2 separate regions of the Homo sapiens genome follow, and region 1 is linked to region 2. The links come from fine-mapping of genetic effects on gene expression. A gene starts in region 2. The other region holds a variant in brackets. All regions are shown on one strand. Distances are from middle to middle.

Region 1 (2,914 bases), 560 kb before region 2:
TAGTGGATTGGATAAAGAAAATGTGGTACATATTCACCATGAAATACTACATAGCCATAAAAAATGAAATAATGTCTTTTACAGCACCATGGATACAGCTGGAAGACATTGTCATAAATGGACCAATGTAGGAACAGAAAAACAAATATGCACATTTTCCCTTAGAAGTGGGAGCTGAACATTGAATGCACATGGACACAAACATGGGAAAGACAGACTCTGGGAAATGCTTGAGGAGGAAGGGTGGGAAGGGCCTGTGGGTTGTAAGGCTACATATTGGGTACTGTAGTCACAGTTTGGTGATAGGCCAATTTGTACATCAAGTCTAAGTTACATGCAACTTACCCATGCAGCAAACCCACACATGTACCCCCTGAACCTAAAGTAAAAGTAGAAACAAGAATTTTCCAGATAAAGCAAAGTTGAGGGAGTTCATTGACAGCTAACCTTATGTGTGAGAAATGTTAGAGAAAGGAGGCTTTTAAGTTGGAAAACAAAAGAAAACAGAGAGCAACACAAAGCCATATAAAAATTATAAAGTTCTCTGATAAAGGTAAAAGTGTGATAAAATTGTCATAATTTTGGGACACAAATTTACTTTTAATTCTTTCATAGAATTTAAAAGACAAAAAATTCTCCTGGACATCTATATAATGGGTACACAACATGTCAAGATATAATGTGTTATATCAATAACATAAAATGGAAGTGAATCTATAAATAATAGAGGTTTGCATTTGACTGAAGTTACAAGTTTAAAATTGACTGTTATGACATTAAGATACTTCATCTAATTGTAATGATAACCACAAAGAGAGAATGTCTAGAGATTATATACAGAAGAAAATGAGAAGGAATTGAAATCATATAACACACAACAATCAATAAAACACAGAGGGAGGCACTAATAGAGAACCAAAAATCTACAAGGTATAAAGAAAGCAATAAAATAGCAGTGATAGGTTCTTTCCTATCAGTAATACATTTAAATGTAAATGGAATAAACTCTCATTACAAAAACAGATTAGCTGATCAGATGAAAAACAAGATCCAAGTATATGTTCTCTACAGGAGAATCACTTTAGATACAAGGACACACATTAGCCTAAAGGGAAAGGATTGTAAAACATATTTCATGCATATAGTAGCCAGAGAAGAGTCAAAATAGCTATATTAATATCAGACAAAATATACTGTAAACCAAAACTGTTACAAGAGACTAAAAAGGACACTAGTTACAGACGAAAGTGTCAGTTCACCAAGAAGATATAACAATTATAAGTACTTATAC[A/G]TCAAATATCAGAGCTTCTAAATATAGGAAGCAATTGTTTTTAAATAATTGAAGGAAACAATGGCAGCACAATAGTAGTTGGATACTTCAATACTCCACTTTCAACAATAGACAGAATAACTAGATAGAAGACGAGTAAGTAAATAATGAACTTGTACAACAGTATAAACCAATTAGACCTTACAGATATTTACAGAACATTGCACTCAACATTAGAATGCATGTTCTTGTCAAGAGCAATTGAACATTTACAGCACAGCATGTCTGTTAGACAATGAAACAAGTCTCAACAATTTTAAAAATATTCAAATTATGCAAAATATATTTTACAGTTTCAATGAAAAGAAACTAAAAATCAATGAGAGATGGAAAACTTGTATATCCAGAAATACATAGAAATCAAACAAGACAATCTTATATGATTGGCGAGTCAAAGAAATCACAAGGAAAAGTAGAAAATACTCTCTCAAATTAAAATGAAAACACAGTATACCAAAAGTTATGGGGTCCAGTGAAAACATTACTAGAAGGGAAGTTAATACCTCTAAACACACACGTTACAAAAGAAGAAAGATCTAAAATCGATAATCTAATGTTACATTTCAAGGAACTAATAAAATAAAATTAAATTAAACCCAAGCAAGCAGAAGAAAGAAATAGTAAAGATTAAAGCAGGGACAAATATAATAAAACTAGAAAACAAATAGAAAAAAATCAAGAAACAAAGATTTTGTTTTTTTGAAAAGATCAACAAAATTGGCAAACCCTTAGCTAGATTAAGAAACAAGAGAAAATACTCAAATAATTAAAATATGAAATGAAATAGGAGGTATTACAACTGATGCCACAGAAATAAAAACATTTTACAAGACAATTCTAGGAACAACTATATGCCAAAAAAGTGGATAAACTAGAGGAAATGTAGAAATTACTACACACACACAAACTATCAAGATTGCCTCGTGAAGAAATAGAAAATCTGAAAGACACAGAACTAGTAAAAAAATAGACATAGTATTCCAAAATCTGAATAAAGAAAATCCCAGGATAAGATTTCTACAGTGGAGATTTCTACGAAACATGTAAAGAAGATTTAACATCAATTCTTTTCAAACTCTTTCAAAGAATTAAGAAAAGGAAATACGTCTCAACTCATTCTATGAGGCCAGCATTACCTTAATAGCAATGCCAGACAAAGGCTCAACAAGAAAAGAAAACTAGAGCCCAATATCCCCATTACCCACTGATGCATAACTCCCCAACAAAATAATACGAAATTGAAGTCAGTAGCACGTTAAAGGGATTAAGCATCATGACCAAGTGGGATTCAATCCTGGAATGCGATGATGGCTCAACATATACAAATAAAACAATTTGATACACTATTTTAGCATAATGAAGGACAAAAACCTAGTGATCATCTCAATTGTTGTAGAAAATACATTTCATAAGATTTCACACACTTTTGTAATAAAAATATTAAATGAACTAGGAATAAAAGTGTGGTGTATAAGATGTGAACAATTACGTACTATTGATGGGATTATAAAATGGTGCTACTGCTATGGAATTAGTATGGTGATTTCCCCAAAAATTAATGATATAACTATTATATGATCCGTC
Region 2 (2,861 bases):
AGTGTAGCAGCCCATGGGTTCTCTGCTGCGAAAAGACTGAACCCAATCCTAATACTAGAGGCAAAAGTCAGCCTCTTACCACAGTATCAAGGACCCAGGCAGGAGAGAATCAAAGGGCTCTGATTCTGGCTTAGTTTCCACCGCCAACTGGCCTCGTAACATAGTAACATAGGACAAATTAACCCTGCTCTCTGGGTCTGGATTTCCTTGTATCCAAAGTGGGGGCTGAGCAAGATCACAACCAAAATGCCTACTAAGCTGGATGTGGTGGCTACACCCGTAATCCCAGCACGTCGGGAGGCTAAGGTGGCAGATCGTTTGGGCCCAGGAGTTCGAGACCAGCCTGAGCAATATAACAAGACCTCGTCTCTACAAAAAAATACAAATATTAGCTGGGTATGGTGGCACCTGCCTATAGTCCCAGTTACTCCAGAGGCTGGGTTGGGAGGATTACTTGAGCCCAGCAGATGGAGCTGCAGTGAGCCGTGATCTGTCACTGCATTTCAGCCCTGGCGACAGAGCAAGACCTTGTCTCAAAAAAAGAAAAGAAATTGCCTACTAGCTCTTATATCTGACCTTAAATTTTGTCTGTGGCAGGAGGGGGAAAAAGCACCAGCCACCTAAGTGGGCAGGGGGAGCTGGGATTTAGAAGTCAGCATCCTTGTGCCTCTGCTCTTTGGTTAAATGACCTTGAACAGGTTATTCAACCTCTTTACGTCTCAGTTTCCTCACTGGTTTTTTAGGATTAAATGACGCTTGCGAAGGGTCTGGAGCAGGTAGGCACGCAGAAACCATTAGCTGGGACAGTGGAGGTCTTCCTCCTCCTCCTTTACCTGCCCCACAGCTGCACGTGAACCACCGATGGCGCCACCTTCTCCACCACCGCGGCGATGAAGTTGTAATTCCTCCTGAGCGGGCCTGCGCTTCTGGTCCCTATGAAAAAATACTGGCTCAAGAGTACGCCTCGAGGGAACCAGACCTGCTATCCTAGTTGGAAAAATGTTAAAGGCAAGACAGTGTTCAAAAGGTGCATGGGGAGGGAGAAACCACGTAGCAGCCGGTAAAGAGCCCCTGTTAAGGAGGAAAGGAAATCAGGAACACAGAGGTGTCGAATCCAGGAGGCAAATGACGCAGGAGGACCAGGCGCGAACTGTGCGGTCTCAGTGAGGTCTTGTTCCTTTACGCTCCTCCAGAGTTAGAAAGTGTTCCGAGGGCGCGCGCCCCCGCGGCTCACCTGTATCCCCGCAGTTCCCCCACTGCACAGGCACGGCCGGGACCTTGCCCAGGCGGCGCGCGGCGCGGTTTTCGGCCCGGAGCGCGCACATGCTGGGGTAGGTGCGCCTGTCGCTGCCGCACACGGCCCCTCCCAGCGTCGGGCAACCGCAGGTGCTGGGGAACCCGGGGCGCAGCGGCTGGAGGCACTGCAGCCCCGGGGCGCACGGTTGGCCCTGCGCCCCGCCGCAGACTTCACGCTCGGCCGCGGGGCAGACGCGGCAACAGCGGCACAGGTCGAACACCGGCGTGGTCCCCAGCGCGCAGGTGGGCAGCGCGGGGCAGCGCGTGGGCTGGCAGACCGCGGGGCAGGAGGGCTGGGTATGTAGCTTTTCAGCCCCGGCCCAGAGGACGGGCACCAGGAGCAGCAGCAGCCCCGGCAGGAGGCATCGTCCCAGCCCCGCGGTCCGCAGCTGAGGTCTAATCATCCTGTTCCTTCCTCGCTTCCACTCTTCAGTGACTTTACTCTGGACCTGCAAACCCTCCTAAATGAGAGACACTTTCTCCCGGCCACGGCGCCGCCTCCGCCGGCCCCCAAACTTTAAGGGGCAGAGCCTGGCATACCTCTGCATATACACACCCGTACATCCCCTACCACCCGCCCCCGTCGGCGCCCCGGAGCCAGGTTCTCCCCCAGGCAATGAGGGGAAGGTCTCTAGCCCTACCCGGAGCAGGAACCTACCTCCTGAAATCCCTAAAACCGACAATGAGGGCAGACTGATAAGAAAGCTCACCCACCCATGGTCAGAAGGTCAGTATTAGGAAAACACATGACCATATTTCAGTATTTCACATGGTTTTATTACAAAACAAGCCACAAAACAGTTTTAGAAAATTTTTGCTACATACCAATTAGGAGATCACATAAAATGAGAAGCGTAACAGTTTCCATGCACTCAGCCTAGAGCTTACAGCGAGTGCATTTCACAGCTGAAACATCACTGCTTTAAAACACAGAATCATGCTACCCCTTCATAAGCAGAGGGGGAGGAGGTCAAACAGTATGTTTTTGCCAAACGTTTGCTTTATCTGAACTCTATCTAGTATGAAGGACTGGCTGCCGCAGGCAATAACACAGAGAGGAAAAGGAACAAAGGAAGAAAAGGGTGCTGGCAGACAAGATTTAACAAACCTGTCCACTTCCGACATTTTGAAAGTTTATAAACAAAGCTCACTTGGGGACACTCAATTTCCAAAATGCTGTGACCTCCACATGTTATCTAATTTATACTGAAAACAAACCTACTAAACTCCACTCCTCAACTACTGAACCTGCTATTTATTCATGGGGTCTTTTTAGCCCATATAAGAGTATATTTATATTCAGAAATATAAAAGAAAAAAAATTTGCTTCAAGTAGACTAAGAAGCTGGACCTTAAAACTACTTTCTTTCTCGTGGGAGCTGAGTATTCAACTCAGAAATAGATGTATAACTCCAATATTCTGACCTGACATCAATCTCCATAATGTATACCTCAATACCCTTATGATGTCTCACTTAACACTAAAGGCCAAATTATTTTTACCAACCATCAGCTGACATTGAGTAAGCAAGTCTTTTGAAGATTTCAAAAGTAATAGATGGTGG

Which allele goes with the higher level. Positions count from the first base shown, and alleles are read on the strand shown. Sizes are in standard deviations (SD) of each study's normalised expression.
As copies of G replace A in region 1, the expression in aorta of the gene that starts at base 1,736 in region 2 goes down (moderate effect, 0.61 SD a copy in GTEx).

The links. PIP is the estimated chance that this variant, and not a neighbour inherited with it, causes the effect.
Region 1: its variant is the best candidate, but not a certain one, in a credible set for the expression of HTRA4 in aorta (GTEx, PIP 0.74).

The regions. Positions count from the first base shown.
Region 1 is chr8:39,538,006-39,540,919 of GRCh38, reverse strand. No RefSeq gene overlaps it. Among named protein-coding and RNA genes, the nearest start is that of ADAM18, 45 kb to the left of the region's middle. The variant A/G (reference allele first, on the strand shown) is at 1,292.
Region 2 is chr8:38,973,103-38,975,963 of GRCh38, reverse strand. HTRA4 (HtrA serine peptidase 4) reads right to left here and starts at 1,736. Exons shown (of 9, transcript NM_153692.4): 1 at 1,235-1,736; 2 at 834-933. The coding sequence starts at 1,700. PLEKHA2 (pleckstrin homology domain containing A2) reads right to left here. Exons shown (of 12, transcript NM_021623.2): 12 at 2,052-2,861. RefSeq lists an enhancer at 1,100-1,159 and a silencer at 1,340-1,569.